Linked DNA regions of Homo sapiens: regions 2, 3 and 4 are each linked to region 1. The links come from fine-mapping of genetic effects on gene expression. A gene starts in region 1. Each other region holds a variant in brackets. All regions are shown on one strand. Distances are between the middles of the regions.

Evidence for each region. PIP is the estimated chance that this variant, and not a neighbour inherited with it, causes the effect.
Region 2: its variant is the best candidate, but not a certain one, in a credible set for the expression of SDR42E1 in whole blood (TOPMed, PIP 0.50).
Region 3: its variant is the best candidate, but not a certain one, in a credible set for the expression of SDR42E1 in esophagus mucosa (GTEx, PIP 0.81).
Region 4: its variant is the best candidate, but not a certain one, in a credible set for the expression of SDR42E1 in pancreas (GTEx, PIP 0.85).

What each region holds. Positions count from the first base shown.
Region 1 is chr16:82,009,045-82,014,196 of GRCh38, forward strand. It overlaps SDR42E1 (short chain dehydrogenase/reductase family 42E, member 1), which reads right to left and starts at 2,426. Exons shown (of 3, transcript NM_145168.3): 1 at 2,343-2,426. RefSeq lists a silencer at 2,201-2,350 and enhancers at 2,591-2,680, 2,691-2,770.
Region 2 is chr16:81,985,733-81,990,884 of GRCh38, forward strand. It overlaps SDR42E1 (short chain dehydrogenase/reductase family 42E, member 1), which reads right to left. Exons shown (of 3, transcript NM_145168.3): 3 at 3,123-5,152. Among named protein-coding and RNA genes, the nearest start is that of SDR42E1, 23 kb to the right of the region's middle. The variant A/G (reference allele first, on the strand shown) is at 3,143.
Region 3 is chr16:81,918,580-81,923,731 of GRCh38, forward strand. It overlaps PLCG2 (phospholipase C gamma 2), which reads left to right. Exons shown (of 33, transcript NM_002661.5): 20 at 905-1,085; 21 at 2,619-2,690; 22 at 4,906-5,015. Among named protein-coding and RNA genes, the nearest start is that of SDR42E1, 90 kb to the right of the region's middle. The variant T/A (reference allele first, on the strand shown) is at 3,055.
Region 4 is chr16:81,967,312-81,972,463 of GRCh38, forward strand. No RefSeq gene overlaps it. Among named protein-coding and RNA genes, the nearest start is that of SDR42E1, 42 kb to the right of the region's middle. The variant T/C (reference allele first, on the strand shown) is at 2,905.

The DNA of each region.
Region 1 (5,152 bases):
CTTCCATGCGGTGTTAAGCCTGTGGGTACACAGAAGTCAAGAACTGAGGTTTGGAAACCTCTCCCTAGGTTTCAGAGGATGTATGGAAACTCCTGGATGTCCAGGCAGAAGTTGGCTGCAGGGGTGGGGCCCTCATGGAGAACCACTGCTAGAGCAGCATGGAAGGGAAATGTGGGGTTGGAACCACCCCACAGCGTCCCCACTGGGACACTGCCTAGTGGAGCTGTGAGAAGAGAGCTACCATCCTCCAGACCCCAGAATGGTAGATCCACCAACAGCTTGCACCGTACACCTAGAAAAGCAGCAGACACTAAACGCCAGCCCTGGAAGCAGCCAAAAGTGGGGCTGTACCCTGCAAAACCACAAGGGTGGAGCTGCCCAAGACTATGGGAAACCACCTCTTGCATCAGTATGACCTGGATATGGGACACGGAGTCAAAGGAGGTCATTTTGGAGTTTCAAGATGTGACTGCCCCGCTGGATTTTAGACTTGCATGGGGCCTGTAGCCCCTTCGTTGTGGCCAATTTCTCCTTTTTGGAATGAGTATACTTACCCAATACCTGTACCCCCATTGTATCTAGGAAGTAACTAACTTGCTTTTGATTTTACAGGCTTATAGGTGGAAGGGGCTTGCCTTGCCTCAGATGAGACTTTGGAGTGTGGACTTTTGAGTTAATGCTAAAATGAGTTAAGACTTTGTGGGACTGTTGGGAAGGCATGATTGGTTTTGAAATGTGAGGGCATGAGATTTGGGAGGGGCCAGGGGCGGAATGATATGGTTTGGCTGTGTCTCCACCCAAATCTCACCTTGAATTGTAGATCCCATAATTACCACGTGTCCTGGGAGGGACCCAGTGGGAGGTAACTGAATCACAGGGGTGGGTTTTTCCCATGCCGTTCTCTTGATAGTGAATAAGTCTCAAAAGATCTGATGGTTTTATAAAGGGGAGTTCCCCTACACAAGCTCTCTTGCCTGCCACCATATAAGACGTAAGATGTGACTTTGCTCCTCTTTTGCCTTCTGGCATGATTATGAGGCTTCCCCAGCCATGTGGAACTGTGAGTCCATCAAACCTCTTAACTTTATAAATTACCCAGTCTTGGGTATGTTTTTATTAGCAGCATGAGAATGGATTAATACAGGTAGTTTAAAGGTTTAGCATTTAAGCCTCAGGACAATCTTCCGAAGTTGTTACTAGTATTATCATCAGCTTTCAGAAATGAGGAAAATAGATCAGAGGTTAGGAACCTTGCCCACAAATTATGCAGGTCATAAGGGGTTGGGCAGGGTTCAGGACTTGAAGCCGGGTCTGTATGACTCTTAACCACTACATGTAATGCCGCACAATAAGGCTGGGACAATACAGATTCGCTTAGGTCATTATCTTATCACTGTGAAAGGAAAATAAATCTTGGGGTCCCAAGATCACTAAGCTAAAGGGAAAAGTCAAGCTGAGAACTGCTTAGGGCAAACCTGCCTCCCATTCTATTCATGTATCTCTGCTCACTAAAATAAAGGCATATCTGATTGCTTCCTTTGGAGAGGCTAATCAAACTCAAAATAATGCAACCATTTGTCTCTTACCTACCTATGACCTGGAAGCCCCCTCCCCGTTTCGAGTTGTCCCGCCTTTCCAGACCGAAAAACATGTTCATCTTACATCTGTTCTTGTCTCATGTCTCCCTAAAATGTAGAAAACGAAACTGGGCTCTGACCACATTAAGAATACATCGTCAGGACCGCCTGAGGCTGTGTCATGGGTACATGTCTTCAACCTTGGCAAAATAAACTTTCTAAATGAACTGAGACCCGTCTCAGATTTTCAGGGCTCACTCCACCTCCACAATTTCTGTCACATCTGATTCATCTGGTATTATGACTAGCCTATAAGGTTTTGTTTAAACCTACTTACCTTTTCCCAACAAATACATGCAGTTTAAATGGGAACCTGTCACTGCCACTTTTAAGTGGCAAACCAGAACCAAGTGATAAAGAGGAGGTAATCGTTCTCCCAAAGTGTGCAGAAAATCAAAGACAGGAATCAAGTATAGCCAGCCACCTGTGGAAAGTTCGGAGCTTGGGGCCCCGATGTCCTTAAAAACAAAAAATGCGGAGGGCCAGTGTTTGAGGCCTTGGCGACATTCTAGAAAGCCAAGCTGCGCCCGGTCCCCTGGGATCAGGAAGACATCTGAAAGGGGATACTCCTTCCCGCCACCCTGCTCAGTCATTCACCACCGTCCCCCACCCCCGGGACCGCCACCTGTCGCGTTCCAGGCCGAGGCGGTCCAGGGTCCCCGCGGAAGGGCGGCGGCCCCCCAACCCCAGCCCAGGCCCACTCACAGCTGCAGGAACAAGGGCGCGGCAGACGGCTACAGCAGGCAGAGAGGCCCAGGCCTCCTAGCTACCCATCACCACAGCTGGGGCGCCGAAGCCGTCGGACCTGCCTCCTGGAGCCACTTCCGGGCCTCTCTAGGAAGCCTGGAGGTCTCGGAGTCTCTATGACGCGCAGGTGTCTCCTTCACCTTCACCGGCGTTGAGGTAGCAGGAGGTTCGCTTCATGAATTCCCCCACGTTCTCTGGCTGTGCGTTCCGCCGTGGCGGGAACCCTTTTAGGGTCACGTCTTCCCCCACGTCCCCTGTCTGTGCGTTCCGCCGTGGTGGGAACCCTGTTAGGGCCACGTCAACTGCTCTTCCCACCTCCAGTGTCTGCTTTTAGACTTTCACCTCCATCTTTGTTTATCCCCAAGGCCAAGACCAGTGCCTGATAAATAGGCACTCAGGTCAGCATTGCTTGGGTGGATGGATGATGGAAAAGGCTCTATAGGGAGGCAGAATATTCACTCTCCATGTATCTCTTTAAGTTTCTATTATCTCTGAGTTTCCATATCTATGTGTGCCCATAGGTTTTCCTGTGTCCCTAATTTTCCTTATTTCTCTTTGTTCTGGTCGCCAAGCAGGCAGTGATGCCAAGACTAATCTTTGTTGCTGAAGGAACCAAGGAATGCAGAAAGGAAAGTTGGCATCCTCACTCAGAGGTCTCCTTTTGAGGCCCATCTTTTGTCTCCTCATCATGAGTGTGGTTCTGTGGATGGTTGCAGACTGTACACGTGTATGGACATGCATCCTGGAATGGACCCCTGGCTGGGGAGGATTTCATTTTAGTGTCTTGGAGGATGGAAGTTTTGACTTCATGTGGTGCTCTTGCCGATAGATCTGGTACCAAAGGCAGACTCAGAGAGGTTCATATCAATTGCCTGATTTACTGCTCAGTTTTCACTAAGCACACACAGTCACAAGGACAAAGCTCAAGTCCTAGGATATAAAAATTAATGAAGCCCAGGTGAAGAAATCAAGAAGTGCCAGTCCCTGGCACTGGCCTCTCTCATAGGATGCTCTGGCTTTCCTGCCTGTCTTGTCCTCACCTATTAGGCAGGCATAAGTCACAGGAGACTTCTTGTGCTAAGCAGTCTTAAAGAACAGCTTTGCAGTGGCTGCTTAGGATACATAAAAATTAGAAGAGAAGAGGAAGGGTATTCAGGGGGCTGAGAGACCAGCTATATGCTCTTGAGGCCAGCAGCTAAGGAAGAAAAGACCCACTGAGGATGCAGTAAAGAAGACAGACTTCCTTTGGGGAATTACAGGATCCTCTGAGGGATACCCAGATTTAGAGTGTGTGGATAAACATGAGAAATGGTGAATTTAAATGTTAGTATTCTTGTGCCACCGAGGACTCTTTTAAAATATAATCAGGCGTGTTTTAAAGGAAAATTACAAACTCTATAATTGCTTCCTTAGCTTCCATCATAATTTAGTGAGTTGATTTTATAAAGGTCTGACCAAGAGATCTAAGACAGAAATGACTGGAGAAAGAAATTAACTTCAATGTGAGTTTGTATATCAGTGTTTGTTTAGTATTGTCTTCCCCCAATAATATGTCCAGGCAGTGGATGCATCTCAGAAAGATCAGTTTGCTGTCACAATTACTCACAGGTGTGCAGTATTTTATTTCTCACTCCGATCACAGTCCAATTCAGTCTGCAGGGAAGGGGAAGAGTGCTGTGCTCCACATAATCACTCAGGGACCCAGGCTTCCCCCATTTGTTATGCCATCATGTTCAACTCTTGGCTGCCAAGGTCACTACAGAAGAGGAAGTAAGAGCTTGGCTTTCCCCAACACTTTCACTTAAAGTCTCCTGCATCCCCTTGAAATTCTTCAATCTCTTCACAGCACTTAGCTCATCTGAAATTATCTTGCATGTTGCTATAATGAAAGCTCCGTGAGTGCAGAGACCTGCTTGATTGATTGGTGTATCTCCACTACCTACTATAGTGTCTGGCATAGAGACAGAATTTTTTTTTTTTTTTTTTTTTTTTTTTTACTGGTGAATGAATCAGCAAATGAATATATGTCACATTTCTGGTTGTCCCTGTTCAAAATCCCAGGCTTGCAAACGACACCTTCTTTTGGCCCAGCTTGGATCAGAAATCACCTCTACCATTGTCAGCTGTGGCAAAAGGACACAAGAACTGCTATAAACTGTGGTCATTTCTAAAGAACGGAAATTATTGTGAGCTTGGTAGGCACATGAGAACTTTGCTATCCAAAAGTGTGGATCAGTAACATCAACATCACCTGAGAGCTTATTAGAAATGTTGGGTCTTGGATCCCATTCTAGGCTTAATAAATACAAATCTGTATTCAGCAAAATCCCTAGGTAATTCCTATGTATAGTAAAGGCTGATAAGCACTGCCCTAAAAGTGCTATGACTTAGTAGTAGTAGCACTACAACTCTCTGAGGTGGGTAAGAGAAACCTTGTAATAGTTCCACACTGCATCTGGAAATCAGGTGAGTTTAAGTGACTTACCCAAGGTCACAGAACTAGTAAATGACAGACCTGTGATTAAAAGCCAAGGCTTCTGGCCGGGTGCGGTGGCTCACGCCTGTAATCCCAGCACTTTGGGAGGCTGAGGCGGGCGGATCACGAGGTCGGGAGATCAAGACCATCCTGGCTAACACAGTGAAACCCTGTCTCTACTAAACATACAAAAAATTAGCTGGGTGAGGTGGTGGGCACCTGTAGTCCCAGCTACTTGGGAGGCTGAGGCAGGAGAATGGCGTGAACCCAGGAGATGGAGCTTGCAGTGAGC
Region 2 (5,152 bases), 23 kb before region 1:
AGAAATAATAACCTTAAATTACCTAGAATAAACTTAACAAAAGATATCCAAGACCTTAACATAGAAAACGCAGAATCTTGGCTAGGCATGGTTGCTCACACCTGTAATCCCAGCACTTTGGGAGGCCGAGGTGGGCAGATCACTGGAGGTCAGGAGTATGAGACCAGCCTGGCCAAAATGGCTAAATGCTGTCTCTACTAAAAATACAAAAATTAGCTGGTCATGGTGGTGTATGCCTGTAGTCCCAGCTACTCGGGAGGCTGAGGCCGGAGAATCGCTTGAACCCAGGAGGTGGAGGTTGCAGTGAGCCGACATTGCCCCACCACACTCCAGCCTGGGCGACAGAGTGATACTCCGATACTCTGTCTCAGAAAAAAAAATCATTTGCAGAAGATTCATAAATGGAGATTCATAAATGGACACAAAACTAAATGGAGACGTATACCATGTTTATGAAGGCAACGCCTCAAAACTGTACATGTCAATTCTCTCCAAATTTAACTGTAATATTAAAGCAAACCCAGTTGAAAAAATACCCTCAAGATTTTCATAGAACTATAAAACCTGATTCTAAAAGGGATATGGAAAATGTATATATAAACAGCCTGCAATTATGAAATGAAATTGAGTGGGGATATGTCTTAGCAAATATAAAAGACCTAATAAATCCTTAATAGCTGAAGTTGTGTTATCTTCACAGTAAAAGATAAACTTGAGGAGAAGGAGAGGGAATAGGGAGAATTTGAATTCAGTAGAAAGATAATTATTAATAAATTATGTTGAGACAATTGACTGTTCACTTAGAAAATACCAGGTTAGATCTTCACCTCATGCACAAAACTAAATACCAGATAAAGGTAAACAGGTAAAAAATAAAACTTTAAAGCTATTAAAAGAAAACATACAATATCTATTTCTTCAGAATGGGAAAGACCTTCATAAACAAATATAACCCCCCATGATTAATTTAGCAACAAAATTAAAACTACTATAATTAAAAAGACAATTGAAACTAAGTTAAAAGGCAACTGTTGGGGAGAGAGAAACTATCCATGATTTACATGATAGAAGATGTTACGTCTTTTACATCCTACAAATCCATGCAAAGATGATGAGCAACCCAATAGAGAAGTAGGGGAAAATATGACTATGAAATTCACATAAGAGGAAACTCAAGGTCTAACAGATACCTGGCAAGATGCTCTCGAGTAGTAATTACAAAGGGTAGGTTTTAAAAAATGAGATATTAAAAAACTCATGAGATTGGCAAATATGGAAATGTAAGGTAGTTCTGGAAATGGTATGGAGGCACTAGGAACTCTGGTGGGAGGGTAAATTTGTACAGCCACTTTGGAAGCGGATGAACAGTATGGCTGACTCAAGCCCCACCTATAATCCCATCTTCCTCCCTCATTTCCAGTAGAAGAAATTGGAGTCGGCTTTCAGGAAGGCTTTTTAAAAGAAATAGACCCAGCTGGCATTTCCCTTTGGCCTTGTTTATCTTCCCTTTTCTTCTTGCCTGTAATAATGCCTGAGGGTGCAGCCACCTTCTCAGAATCACGCGGTGAGAATCATTAGAATGAGGATCCAACAGAGCCGAAAGATGGGGCCAGTCCCTGATGTTACCACTGAGCTGCGTCATCCCACGTATGCCTACTTCCGGACCCCTTGTTACATGAAAACAACAAACTACTGTTCAAGGCACTGTTAATAATTTTTAAATGCGCAGCTGAATGCATGTCTGATACAGTAGTCCCTATTAAAATTCTAATTCCACTTCTGGATGTCTATCCTAGCAGCTCATTTCAACGTGGATGTAAGGAGATATATATATATAAGAGCATCCATGCCTGTGCTGTCTGATAAGGTGGCAAGCTAGAAACAAACGGAATAAACACCAATAAGGAAATGCCTTAATCTACCATGGTACATTTACACTATGGAATGCTGTTCAGCTGTTAAGAACTAGGTATATCTACCTTATCTGATGGCCATAAATAAGACATATTCTATGCCATCGTTGTTTGAGAAAGTAGCAATCATCTAGTGTTCTTACAAAGGCAAGCTCTAGGCCAGGCGCCACCCAGCTCACATACTGAGCCTCCTTCCTTGGCGCCAGTTGTGCCCTGAATGTGTGTCCAGGGTGGGGAATGGAAAGGCAGTCCAGGCGTTAGATCTACCAACTCAGATTTCACCTTTGCTGGTAGATGAGTCATGCCTATGCCTGGGAGACTGGCAGGGAAGTTGGGGAGGTACATGAAGCATAATCAGAGGTAGGTGGACAGCAGAAGTTAGGAAAGTTCTGATGTGGCACACAGGACTCTATCAACAGCTGGGGAACGACAGGTTTCTTGGGCAGCCTGGGGTAGGGGTGGGAGCTGGCAGTGCCACCTGTTCCTAACCTCTGTTCTTAATAGGGCTGGCCGAGGCAAAGCCATGTTATTTGTTTACTAGGTTTGAGGCAGTAAAATTACTGAAGTAATAACCACAACATTGTGAAGGACAATTGAAGGAGGTTGTTTGAGGCTGTTATCGACTCTATCACTAACACAATGACGGCTAAGTATAAGGAGAATTACCTATACTCAGGCATTTTAGATGGCTTTTTAGGTTTGGAGAAAATGAAAAGCAAAACATATATGATGCATTTCACAAATGCTTTTGGACTGATGTTGCTATACTTACTGGAAAATCAAGTTCCATTTGAATTCACCGAAATGTTTTCCTTTTTGCTTCTTGAATACTGTAGTGTTCTGTGATATAGTTAAATTTGCTGCCTTCGCAAGGTTGATACTGGAATTCTTTCTAGTGTATTATGCTGCATAATTTGTACCAATATTGACTAAATATTTATTCTTTTACATGTTCAATGGCTACTTGCAGAGGAATTTATTCAAATTTATTATAGTTTGCTACTGATATTAGCTTTATTTTGCATGTGCTGTAGAGGAATTCGTTCAGATATATTTTATTTTGTGTCTTTCCTAGTTACCAGTGTTCGGTGAACCACCGAACCAGTGTTTGCTTTCATACGACCGCGTGTCAGATCATCTACTCTTCCACCAGTAAATCTATTTTGCTGAGGGATACACAAAAGAAGCACTGAAAAACTATACATAAGATTTTCTTTAGGTAATTTTTT[A/G]TTAATATTTCAATGTTGGTAGAATACTGCTACATACCCAGAATTCAGGATTTTCTACTATATTCTATTCTAGTACAAAATGAGATTTTTTCCCCTCAAAATCAGTTCACAATAACTTCTAATACATCTGTTATGAAAAATGCTTAATTCTTCATATAACTATGTGTCTTATATATAGGGTGATCGTACAATTTATTATACAAAATGGGACATACCTGAGAGTGAAAGGAAGCACTATTAAAAATTAAGGTGGGACTACAGGCATGAAACCAGAACTGTCTTAGGCCAACTAGGACATATGCTTATCATCTTTATATACCCGGTGACCTCCTATGTCAGCAAATAAAGAATATATACTAATATCAATAGATCACCATGCTGTACTATTGAGTGAGAAACCGTAGTAGCAGAAGGAACTGTGAGGTGGGAGACAGTAGTATGGGGAAAGACATGAACACCACAGCCCTGTTTTCTATACAAATATATACATATATGAAATTTGGGGACATTAGTAAAAGGGGTCTTTGGCCTTATCCGTAATATTTTAACATTATATAAGAAAAATACATCTATGCATTATTTGTATAGTTACTTTTAAATCTAAGTTACACAGAAGCACTCTGAATGTGTAGAAATAAAAGCTTGATGATTTTGGGTTGGCTTTCTAGCCCCACAATTTAAAACCAACACACACCGCTATGGGTGTTTATAGACATCAAAATTTAGAGCAGAGAGGCATAGATGCCTACTTGTTCTCTAGCATGGTGTAATTGACTCTGCAATCTCAAGAAAAGAAAAACTCATTTTCAGTTTAGAGCTCAAAACGTGACTGAATTGAGTAATTGAAAACCATGGTATCAAGCCTGTAATCCCAGCACTTTGGGAGGCCGAGGTGGGTGGATCACCTGAGCTCAGGAGTTCGATACCATCACGGCTGACATGGTGAAACCCCATCTCTACTAAAAATACAAAAATTAGCTGAGCGTGGTGGCGGGCACCTGTAATCCCACCTACTTGGGAGGCTGAGGCAGGAGAATTACTCGAACCTGGGAGGCGGAGGTTGCAGTGAGCCAAGATTGTGCCACTGCACTCCAGCCTGGGCCACAAGACCAAAACTCCGTCTGAAACAGACAAACAAACAAAAAAAACATGGTAGGCTGGGCACGGTGGCTCATTCCTGTAATCTCACCACTTTGGGAGACTGAGGAAGGAGGATCACCTAAGGCCAGGAGTTTGAGACCAGCCTGGGCAAAACGGTGAGACCCTGTCTCTACAAAAGACGACAGAAAAATTAGCTAGGTGTGCTGGTGCACCTGTGGTTCTAGCTACTTAGGAGGATCACCTGAGCCCAGGAGGGCACTGCAGCAGTGAGCTGTGTCCACAGTGCTACACTTCAGCCTGGTCGACAGAGTGACACCATGTCTCAAAAGAAAAAAAGAAAAGCCACGGTAAATAAACTAATACCTGTTATATGGCAGGAAATCAATGAAACATTTTCACTGAACCATCTCTACCCGCATATGCAGTTGTTTTTTTCAAACTACAGTCTTATGTTGCTAATTAGTTACTGAACATTCCATTTGAACGTCTCAAACTCCACTAGCATGTCTTGCATCTCTTCCTGTAGACACCAGCTTCCCCTCCAAACCCTTCCATCTTTCCCAGCAGAAACACTATTAATTAAGGATCCATGTGCATAGTTCTTGTACAGGTTACAAAAGGCCTCTGTGCCATTAAATCCATACAAGTTCCCCCAAGAGATAAGCAGGGAATGTTTTATCTCCACTTTACAGATGAGAGGCATTTGCTCAAAGTCACATTGCAAATAAGAGATGGCTCCAGGACAGGCATAAGGAAGTGCAAGCAAATGCATGAGTCCCTTGAGCACTGAAGGGCTATAATCACCCACTACCAAATATTTCTTTTCCACTTGGGCCCAAACTTAAGGTATTTGCTGTGCTCAGAGACACTTCCACTGTGAAGTGCTTTGTAAAAAGTTCACCCTTCTTT
Region 3 (5,152 bases), 90 kb before region 1:
GCTATCTATTCTGTTCCACTGGTCTGTGTGTCTGTTTTTATGCCACTGTTGTGCTATTTTTATTACTATAGCTTTGTAGTATATTTTGAAGTAAGATAGTGTGCTATCTGCAGCTTTGTTATTTTTGCTCAAAATTGCTTTGGCTATTTGGGGTAGACATTTTTAAAAAGACCCTCTTGGCTGTAAACTTAGGGTCAAAAATATTTTTCCAGATGTTTCTGTCTTGCTGATAAAAGCTAATAAAACCAAGGAGGCTCTTCTGTTTTGGATTTTTTCTGCTTCATGTTTCAAACAGATGAAGGAATGAAAGACTTGTTTCTTTTTTTTTTTAAAAAAAGTCACTGTTTTGCTAGTTGAGTCACCGAAGACAAGATTTAATAATTTTGAGGTGGGGGGGATTGGCAAACATTTTCTGTGAAGGACCACAGAGTGAATATTTTAGGTTTTGCAGGCCATATGGTCTCTGTTGCAGCTACACAACTCTGCTGTTACAGTGTGAAAACAGTCCCAGACAATGTATAAACAAATGAACTGTAGCTGTGTTTCAATAAAGCTTTATTTATAAAAGCAGGTGGTGGGACACATTTGGCCTACTCTTGACCTAGTTCCCTAGGAAGCTCCTAAAGTCAAGTCCTGTAGTTGGGGAGGAGAGGAAGGGTAAGAGGAGCTGTTGAGTCACTCGGCCATATTTCTTCTGAGACACAGATTCTTCTAGATCTGTTTTGAAAATACCCACATCATTGTTTTCTTATTGTCTTGTATTCCATAGGAGGACTATACCCTGTTTATTTACCCACTTCTCTAAGGCTGGATAACTAGGTTGTATCTAATCAGTAGGGTTTGTGTAAAAATTGTTTGGCCACCAGGATCTTGGCATGTCAACCCTGTGTTCTTCCTGCTCCAGGGCTAGGGGCAAGGTAAAGCATTGTCGCATCAACCGGGACGGCCGGCACTTTGTGCTGGGGACCTCCGCCTATTTTGAGAGTCTGGTGGAGCTCGTCAGTTACTACGAGAAGCATTCACTCTACCGAAAGATGAGACTGCGCTACCCCGTGACCCCCGAGCTCCTGGAGCGCTACAATATGGTAGGTGGTGGACTCCCTTGTGATTTGGTGGGATTTCTTGTCTGAGGTTGTAACTCATCTGTTCATGAATTCAGCAAACCTCTGAGTATTCACCATGTATCTGATACTGCTGTAGGTCCTGGGGATACAAATTGAGCACAACAAAGACCCTGCCGTTGTGCTGCTTATAGTGTAGTGTTGGGGAGATGCAACAAATGACATTTAAAATATCCATAGCATGTGCCAGATGGTGATGAGTGCTATGGAGAAAAACACTGGGCAGGTGGATAAGAGGATACAGAGTGATGGGGAAGGGGTTGAAGTTTTCAGAGGGTGGTCTAGGAAGATCTCACTGAAAAGGAATGAGCCATGTGGGTATGTTCTGGAGGAAGAGAGGATAGCATGCGCAAAGGTCCTGAGGTAGAAGCCTGCCTGGAGGCACCAAGAGGAAGTCAGCATGGCCGGAATCAAGCCAGCCCAGGTGGGGGTAGAGCTAAATAAGGATGAGGGTTCACAGGTGACTTATCATGCAGGGGCTCATAGGCCATTGTAAGGCCCTGGCTTTTTCTCTGAGTCATTGGAGAGTTCTGGGTGCAGGAGAGACCTGATGTGGTTACTTTGTCTCCATTCCTACCACATAGATCATTAATTTATTGAAGAGAGATTTATGGCATCCCGATCATGTGCCAAGGACTGTTCTAGATACTAGGAGTACTGTGGAACAAAATCTGCTTTGGGAAATTTAGGTTCTGGAGAGGAGAGACAGATAATATACACAATTAAGATGTTTTCAGGTAGCATGAAATATAATAAAGCAAAGAAAACAGGATAGTGTGAAAAGGGGTGGACACTACCTTAGGCTGTGGGAGTGGAGATCAGAGAAGGCCACCTTAAAAGGGGAGAAATGTGAGCCGAAACATGGAAGATAGCAGTGAATGGGATCTGGGGAGAAGTGAATGAAGGGGTGACTCTAGGTACAGGAGTGGCCACATCACAAGCCCTAAGGTGACATGAGGAACAGAAAGAAGAGTTAGAGAGGAACAGAGAGGTGGTGGGGGTGGATCTTGTCAGTGGTGTGCTAGTAAATGTTCAAACAGCTCTCAGCGGGGTAGGGGGAAGGCACTGGTTTGTAGCATTTGCCAGTTTCCATGGTGTAAATACTTCCATGGAGGTCAGTTTCAAGTTGTTGATGTGCTGTCGTTGAACCTGGAACGTGGAGTCAGGAAGTGATGTACACAGTGGGCTTTTGTGAGCCGGGAGGTCACTCCAGCACACCATCGCATCTTAGGATTTGTGCTTTTACAAAGGAACGCAGTGCCTGGCACGCAGCAGGCCAGGACAGGGCCTCTCTGATTTTGGGTTAGTTTCCAAGTCTGGGGACCTTCTTTATAGCTTCTTCCTGTGTCTACTCATGGGCCAAAAGAAAATTCTATGAGGTTTCAACTCCTCTATCAAAGGATAGGTAACCATAAGGAAGCCTAGAACCCTTGTTATATGTAAGGGCTATTCCAGGAGCATGGATTATTCCATTTCTTTCTTTCTTTTTTTTTCCAGGAAAGAGATATAAACTCCCTCTACGACGTCAGCAGAATGTATGTGGATCCCAGTGAAATCAATCCGTCCATGGTACGGTGCCGAACCTCCAATTCACATGATTTTGGAGTCACGAGGCTGATGTGGATTCCATCTTGTTCCCATGGCAGTTATAACAGGGCAAGGGAAGACTTTGGAAAACCTGGCCAAAATAATTTTTTTTTTTTTTTGAGAAGAAAGGATGATTGATAATATCAAGCCTAGTTTCAGGGAAAATGTTAATAGAATTCCATCCAAATGCAACAGTGTTTTGCTAAAATTCTGAGGTTTGACGAACCACCTTTGGGCCAAATGGCTTCTAATGAAAAGTCTTTCAAATGTTTTTGGCTCGCTGACAGAGCCTGTGGTGTTTATAAATTCCATTTGGTTCACTGACCTCCTTGCAGTGCAAATGCTA[T/A]CTCATATTCCCACCCTGACTCTGTTGTGTAATTTCATGCAGGTAGGGATGGATTTTACTTTCAGCCCTCGGCTCCTCCTTGCCATGCTTTCATCTCAAATTTAGTTTGAGCCGGCAGAGGAAGAACCACAGCGAATTTTCTGTTTGGGGGCCATGTGGCACACAATTAGTGTACAACGCTCACTTAGGAAGGGGCCCTGCTTGTGGGCTCTGTTGAAATCCAGAGATGACTTTCTTTTTCAAAAATTTATAATCCATGGCCAATGCAGATCTGTTTCAGAAAGAAATGAAATCTTGAAAAGTTGTGGGCAAATTGAGCTGTGTGTGAAATGCATTAAGAGACCTTAGTAGCAAAAACTTTTGTTAGTAGTGAAGGATGTTTTGGCGATGAGAACAGTCACCTCTCTAACTGATGACTTTTCCTTCCTGTGGCCTTGGAGACTGGCTGGTCCTTATATCCACCCTTGAAGCAGGATACGCAAGTAGAGGCTGCTCTGTTTGCAGGTGGGGGAGAGAAAGGCAAGGGTACTGCTTAGCCTCTGGCCTCCAGCTGCAGATCCCTGTGGCAGAGCTCCTAGAACCCACATTGCTTCTTATGAAACATCATGCACTATGGCACTAACTCACATTGATGGATCCAGTTCTGGGCTGAGCCACTTAAAACAGCTGGTCGATGTGGGGCAAATTACTTTCTCTCTCTGCATCTCAGTTTTCTCATCTGCAAAATGGGCATACTCATATAACTACTTACCTGTTATGGTTGCTTAAGGATTAAAGGAGATACCTTAAGGCTTGGAATAATGCTTTAGCGATACTATAGTTAGCACTTAAGAAGTGCAAGCTGTTGTCAGTTTTATCATTATACACATGATCTCATTTAGTAGTCTTAACAACCCTGTGAAATATATAAAAATTTAATTCCCATTTCACAGACGGGGGAACTGAGGATCAGAGAGACTCAAACTTATATCATTATTCAAGGGCAGAGCAATGATTTGAACCTACATATCTGACTCTGTAGCCTGTGTTCTGAGGAAAAATTTTACTAGGTTCCCTGTGAAATTCCTGTTCCCATTTCCTTTGGGTGGGAGGAGAAGGAAGCTGCTCATTTAAACAGGTTTGACAACGTCAGAGCTTTTCCCACTAACATTTGCTTGCCGTGTGGGTGTTCATTTATGCCCGCCAGGCAGAAAGCATGAAAGCAAATTCATTGAAGAAAATTTCTAACCAAGGAAGTTCTATCTTATTTAGTTCTGTGAACAGAGACCACCTTTTGATGAATTTCATGGAGGAGAAGCTCAGTTACTCTTGCAAAATGTCAGGGTCCTGCAGGAGTGTAGATAGGGGACTGCTGACCTACAAAAACAGAGCAATGAGGCCCTCAGGACAGGCAGGAAGAATGGGGTTGCCCTTGAGCTTCTGGGAGGCTTGCTGAGCACCGGCACTGTGATGACAGTCTTGGCTTAATCTAAAAGGCATGTCCTTTCTTTGTTGAGGAAATTGAGCAATATTGTGTCACTACAATATAGGGTCACTCCCACCCTAACCCTAAGCCTAACCCTAACCCCAGCGCTAAACCCTAGCCCCAAACCCTAACTCCTAACCCCTAACCCTTAACCCCAACCCAGGTACCCTTGGCTCTGACTAGGCCAGTTCTCCTTCACTCCCTGGTGGCTTTTTGGGGCCTTCGATCCTTTGCAATGCCAGTCCCTCTCCAGCAGATGACTTTGTAACCTTGGCCTGAAGCCTCCTGCTCCCCAATGAGAAGAACCAAATGGTACCTGGGAACGCAGCCGCCTCCCTCCCCTCCTGTCCCTGGCCTGACCTTTTCCTTCTTGTTTTCCCTGAAAGCCTCAGAGAACCGTGAAAGCTCTGTATGACTACAAAGCCAAGCGAAGCGATGAGCTGAGCTTCTGCCGTGGTGCCCTCATCCACAATGTCTCCAAGGAGCCCGGGGGCTGGTAAGGCTGAGTGGAGGCTGGGCTGCTCGGCAGGTGGGCTTGACTTGTCCCTTCTTGGTGATAAGACTCAGGTGCTGGCCAAGTCTGACCCCCTTTGTCATCCTGGGCTGGCTTTGACCTCTTGTGTTAAGTCCCTT
Region 4 (5,152 bases), 42 kb before region 1:
GTTGTAGCATCTGACAGGATTTCCTTCTGTTTTCTGACTGAATAATATTCCATCGTATGCCTATACCCCATGTTCTTTGTCCATTCATCTGTCCATGTACACTTTAAGTTGTTTCTACCTCTTGACTATCGTGAATGATGCTACGATGAACTGGAGAGTGCAAATCTCTCCTTCAGTTCCTGATTTTGATTATTTTAGCTAAATATGCAGAAGTGGGATTGCTAGAACGTATAGTACCTCTGTTTTAATTTTTGAGGAACCTCCACACTGCTTTGCATAATGCCTGCATCATTTTACACTTCTACCACCAACAGTGCAGAAGGTTTCCTATTTCTCCACATCTTCGTCAACACTTGTTATATACATATTTTTCTAATAATGTCCATCCTAAAAGGGTGTGAGGTGATATTTCACTGTGGCTTTTACATTTTCTTTTTTTTTTAAATTAAATTAAATTTTATTTTATTGAGACAGAGTCTCACTCTGTCGCTCAGGCTGAAGTGCAGGGCTGAGATCTTGGCTCACTGCAACCTCTGCCTCCTAGGTTCAAGAGATTCTCCTGACTCAGCCTCCCAAGCAGCTGGGATTACAGGTGCACACCACCATACCCGGCTCATTTTTTTGTATTTTTAGTAGACATGGAGTTTCACCATGTCTGTCAGGCTGGTCTCAAACTACTGACCTCAAGTGATCTGCCTGCCTTGGCTTCCCAAAGTGCTGGGATTACAGGCGTAAGCCACCACGCCTGGGCAATTTGCATTTTCTTGAAGATTAGTGATGTTGAACATCTTTTCATATACCTGTTGACCATTTGTATGTCTTCTTTGGAAAAATGTCTATTTAAGTCATTTGCCCATTTAAAAAATTGTGGGTTTTTGCTATTGAGTTATAGGAATTCCTTGTTTTTGATATTAACTCCTTATCAGATGTACAGTTTTCAAATATTTTCTCTCAATCCAGAGGTTGCCTTTTTACTCTCCTGAATATTTCCTTTGCTGTGTGCAGAAGCTTTTTAGTTTGATACAGTTCTACTTACCTTTGTTTTGTTGCCCAAGCTTTTGAGGTCATATCCAAGAAATCACTGCTAAGACCCATGTCATGAAGCTTTTCTTCTGTTTTCTTCTAGCAGTTTTATGGCTTTAAGTCTTATATTTAAGTCTTTAATCAATTCTAAATTGATTTTCACATATAAGTTAAGAGACCAATTTCATTCTTTTGCATGCGGATTTTCAGTTTTCCCAACACCATTTTTTGAAGAGACTATTCTTTCCCCACTGTGTATTCTTGGAAGCTTTGTCAAAGATCGGTTGATCTTAGGTGCATAGGGTTATTTCTGGGCTCTCTATTCTGTTCCATTGATCTATATGTCTGTCTTTTGCCAGTACCATAATATTTTATTACTGTAGTTTTGAAGTGTGTTTTGAAATTAGGAAGTATGAGACCTCAACCTTTGTTCTCTTTCAAGATTGTTTTGGCTATTTGGGATCATTTGTGGTTCTATATGAATTTTAGGATTGTGTTTTCTATTTCTGTAAAAAATGCCATTAGGATTTTGGTAGGAATGACATTGAATCTGTAGATCACTTTGGGTAATATGGACATTTTAACAATATTAAGTTTTCCAGTTCATGAACATAGGATGTCTTTCCATTATTTGTGTTTTAAATTTCTTTCAGCAATATTTTATAGTTTTCAGTGTACAAGTCTTTCATTTCCTTGGTTAAGTTTATTGCTAAGTGTTTTCTTTTTGACGCTGTTATAAATGCGATTGCTGTAATTTCCTTTCCAGATTGCTTGTAGTTGGTGTACAGAAACATAACTAATTTTAGTATGCTGACTTTGAATCCTGTAACTTTACTGAATTTATTAGTTCTAACAGTTTTTTTCCCCTTTGGTGGAATCTATAGGATTTTCTACACCTAAAATCATGTTATCTGTGAACAAAGATAATTTTTCTTCCTCCTTTCCAGTTTGCGTGCCTTTTATTTCTTTTTCTTGTCTACTTGCTCTGGCTAGAACCTTCACTAGTATGCTGAATAGAAGTGGTGAGAGTGAGCATCCTCACCTCTTTCCTGATCTTAGACGAAAAGTTTGTTTTTTACCTTTGAATATGTTAACTGTCGTGTTTTCATATATGGGCCTTTATTATGTTGAGGTAATTTCCTTGTTATTCCTAGTGATATGATTTGGATAGTCATCCCTTCCAGATCTCATATTGAAATGTGATTCCCAGTGTTGGAGGTAGGGACTAGTGGGAGATGTTTGGGTCATGGGGGCAGATCCCTCATGAATGGCTTGGTGCCCTCCCTACAGTAATGAGTGAGTTCTCACTCTTAGTTCATTTAAGAGCTGGTTGTTGAGAAGAGCCTGGCATTTCTCTTGTTACCTCCCTTGCCATATGACACACTGGCTGCCCTTCTCTTCCACCATGACTAAAAGCTTCATGAGGCCTTACCAGAAGCATATGCTGGCACCATGCTTCACAGTCCACAGAACTGAAAGCCAAAATAAATTATCCAATCTCAAGTATTTCTTTATAGCAACACAAAATGGACTAATACACCTAGTTTCCTAAGTTTTTTTAATCACAAAAGGGTGTTGAATTTTGCCAAACGCAATTTGTTTCTATTGATATGATCATGTAATTTTTATCCTCTGTTCTGTTCCTGTGGTGTATCACATTTTTGATTTGCATATTTGTAATCATTCTTATGTCCTAGGGATACTCTCCAGTCTCTTATAAGTGACTAAATCCCACTTAGTCATCATGGTGTATGTCCTTTTAATGTGCTATTGAATGTGGTTTGCTTGTATTTTGTTAAGAATTTTGCATCTATATCTGGGATATTGGTCTGCATTATTTTTTTCTTGTAATGTCTGTTTTTGGCTTTGGCACTGGGGTAA[T/C]GCTGGCCTCATAAAATGACTTCGGAAGTATTCGTTCCTCTTCTACTTTTTAAAAGTTCAGAAGCATTCGTCTTAATTGTTCTTTAAATGTTTAATAGAATTCATCAGCAAAATCTTCTGGTCCTGGGCCTTTTTTGAGATGTTTTTGATTACTGATTGAATCTCCTTACTAGCTAAAAGTCTGTTCAGATGTTCTATTTCTTTATGATTCAGTCTTAATTTTCTATTCTCTACTTTGATAACTTCTACCTTAATCTTTATTATTTCATTTCTTCTGCCATCTTTGGGCTTAGTCTGTTTGTTTCTCATTCCTTGAGGTATAGAAGTTAGGTTATTTGAGCTCTTCTTTTGGGAGGTAGGAATTTATCACCACAAATTTTCCTCTTCCTACTGCTTTTTTCTCCATGAGTTATGTTTTTGTTTTGTCTAAAGATATTTTATAATTTACCTTTTTATATCTTCTTTGACCCATTGGTTGTTCCAGAGTAGGTGTTATTTAATTTCCATATATTTATGAGTTTTCTGATTTTCCTTCTCCTACTGATTTTTAGTTTCATTTCACTGTAGTTGGAAATAAATTTGAGAATTCAATCTTCTTAAGTTTGTTAAGACTTGCTTTGTGATCTGTCCTGGAGAATATTTCTGTGTGCACTTGAGAAAATGTGTATTCTGCTACTGTTGGGTGGAATGTTCTGTATATGACTATTAGGTGCATTTGATTTATAGTATTTTTCAAGCCCTCTGTTTCCTTATTGATCCTGTGTCTAGATGTTCTATTCATTACTGAAATCTCCTACTATTATTGCGATGCTGTTTTTCCCTTCAGTTCTGCCGATGTTTGTTTCATATATTTAAGTGCTCTGATGTTTGGTACATACATATTTACAATTATTATATCTTCTTGGTGAACTGACCCATTAATCATTATCTGTCCTTCTTTGTCTCTTGTAGCAGCTTTTGACTTAAAGTCTATTTTGTTTAAGTATGGTCACCCCTCTTTTAGTAGCTTAGCGTATCTTTCTCCATCCTATCACTTTAAGTATATGTGTGTCATTAAACTTAAAGTCAGTCTCTTATATACAGCATCTAGTTGAATCTTGTTATCCTTCAGCTACTTTGTGTCTTTTGACTGGGCAGTTTAATACATTTACATTTAATTATTGATAGGAAAGGACTAACTATTGCCATTTTGTTAATAATTTTCTGTCTGTCTTGCAGCTCTTTTGTCCCTTTTCTTCTTTCACTGTCTTCCTTTGTTGATTTTTTGTAATTTTTGTAGCTAACATAGGGCTTACATGAAACATTTTATAGTTGTAACAATCTGTTTTAAGCTGATAACAACTGTAATCACATTGAAAAACTCTACAGTTTTACTCTTTCCTCCAAACTTTGTCAATTATGTCATAAATTTTATCTTTTTATATTGTGTATCCCTTACATATTTTCATAGTTTTTAAATACTTTTGGCTTTTAACATCTGTACCAGAATTAAAAGTGATGTATACACTAACAATATAGTATTCTGTGTTTAGCTATATACTTACCTTTACCAGCAAACTTTATACTTTCATATGCTTTTGTATGGCTGCTTAGAGTCTGTTTAAACTTCAAGAACTTTAGTATTTGTTGTTATTCAGGCCTAGCGGTGATGAACTTCTTCAAATTTTATCTGAAAAAGTCTTTATTTCTCCTTTGCTTTTAAAGGACAGTTTGCCAGATACAGTATTCTTGAACAACCTTTTCTCCCCCTCCTTTCAGCACTCCCAATATACTGTCCCATTCTTTTCTGGCCTGCAAGGTTTCTGCTGAGAAATTCACTGATTCTTATGGGAGTTCCCTTGTATGTAATTAGTCCCTTTTGTTGCTCTCAAAATTCTGACTTTTGACAACTGATGTCTCAATATGGACTTCTTTGAGTTTATTCCCTTTGGGTCCATTTTCTTTCAGAGATTTGACAAGTTTTTGGACATTATTTATTTAAAGAAGCTTTCTGTCTCTTTATCTCTTCTACTTTTGGAACTAACATAATGAGTATTTTGGTCTGCTTATGGTGTCCTATAAGTCTGTGAGGCTTTTTTCTCTTCCTCTTCCTTCCTTCTGTTCTTCCTTCCTTCTCCTTCCCTCATCTTCCTCTTCCTCTCCTTCCCCCTCCTCTTACCTCTCCCTTCTTCCCCCTCCCCCCACTTCTCTTCTTCTTCCTGTTTTTGCTCCTCTGGCTGGATAATTTCAATGATCTGTGTCTGGGCTT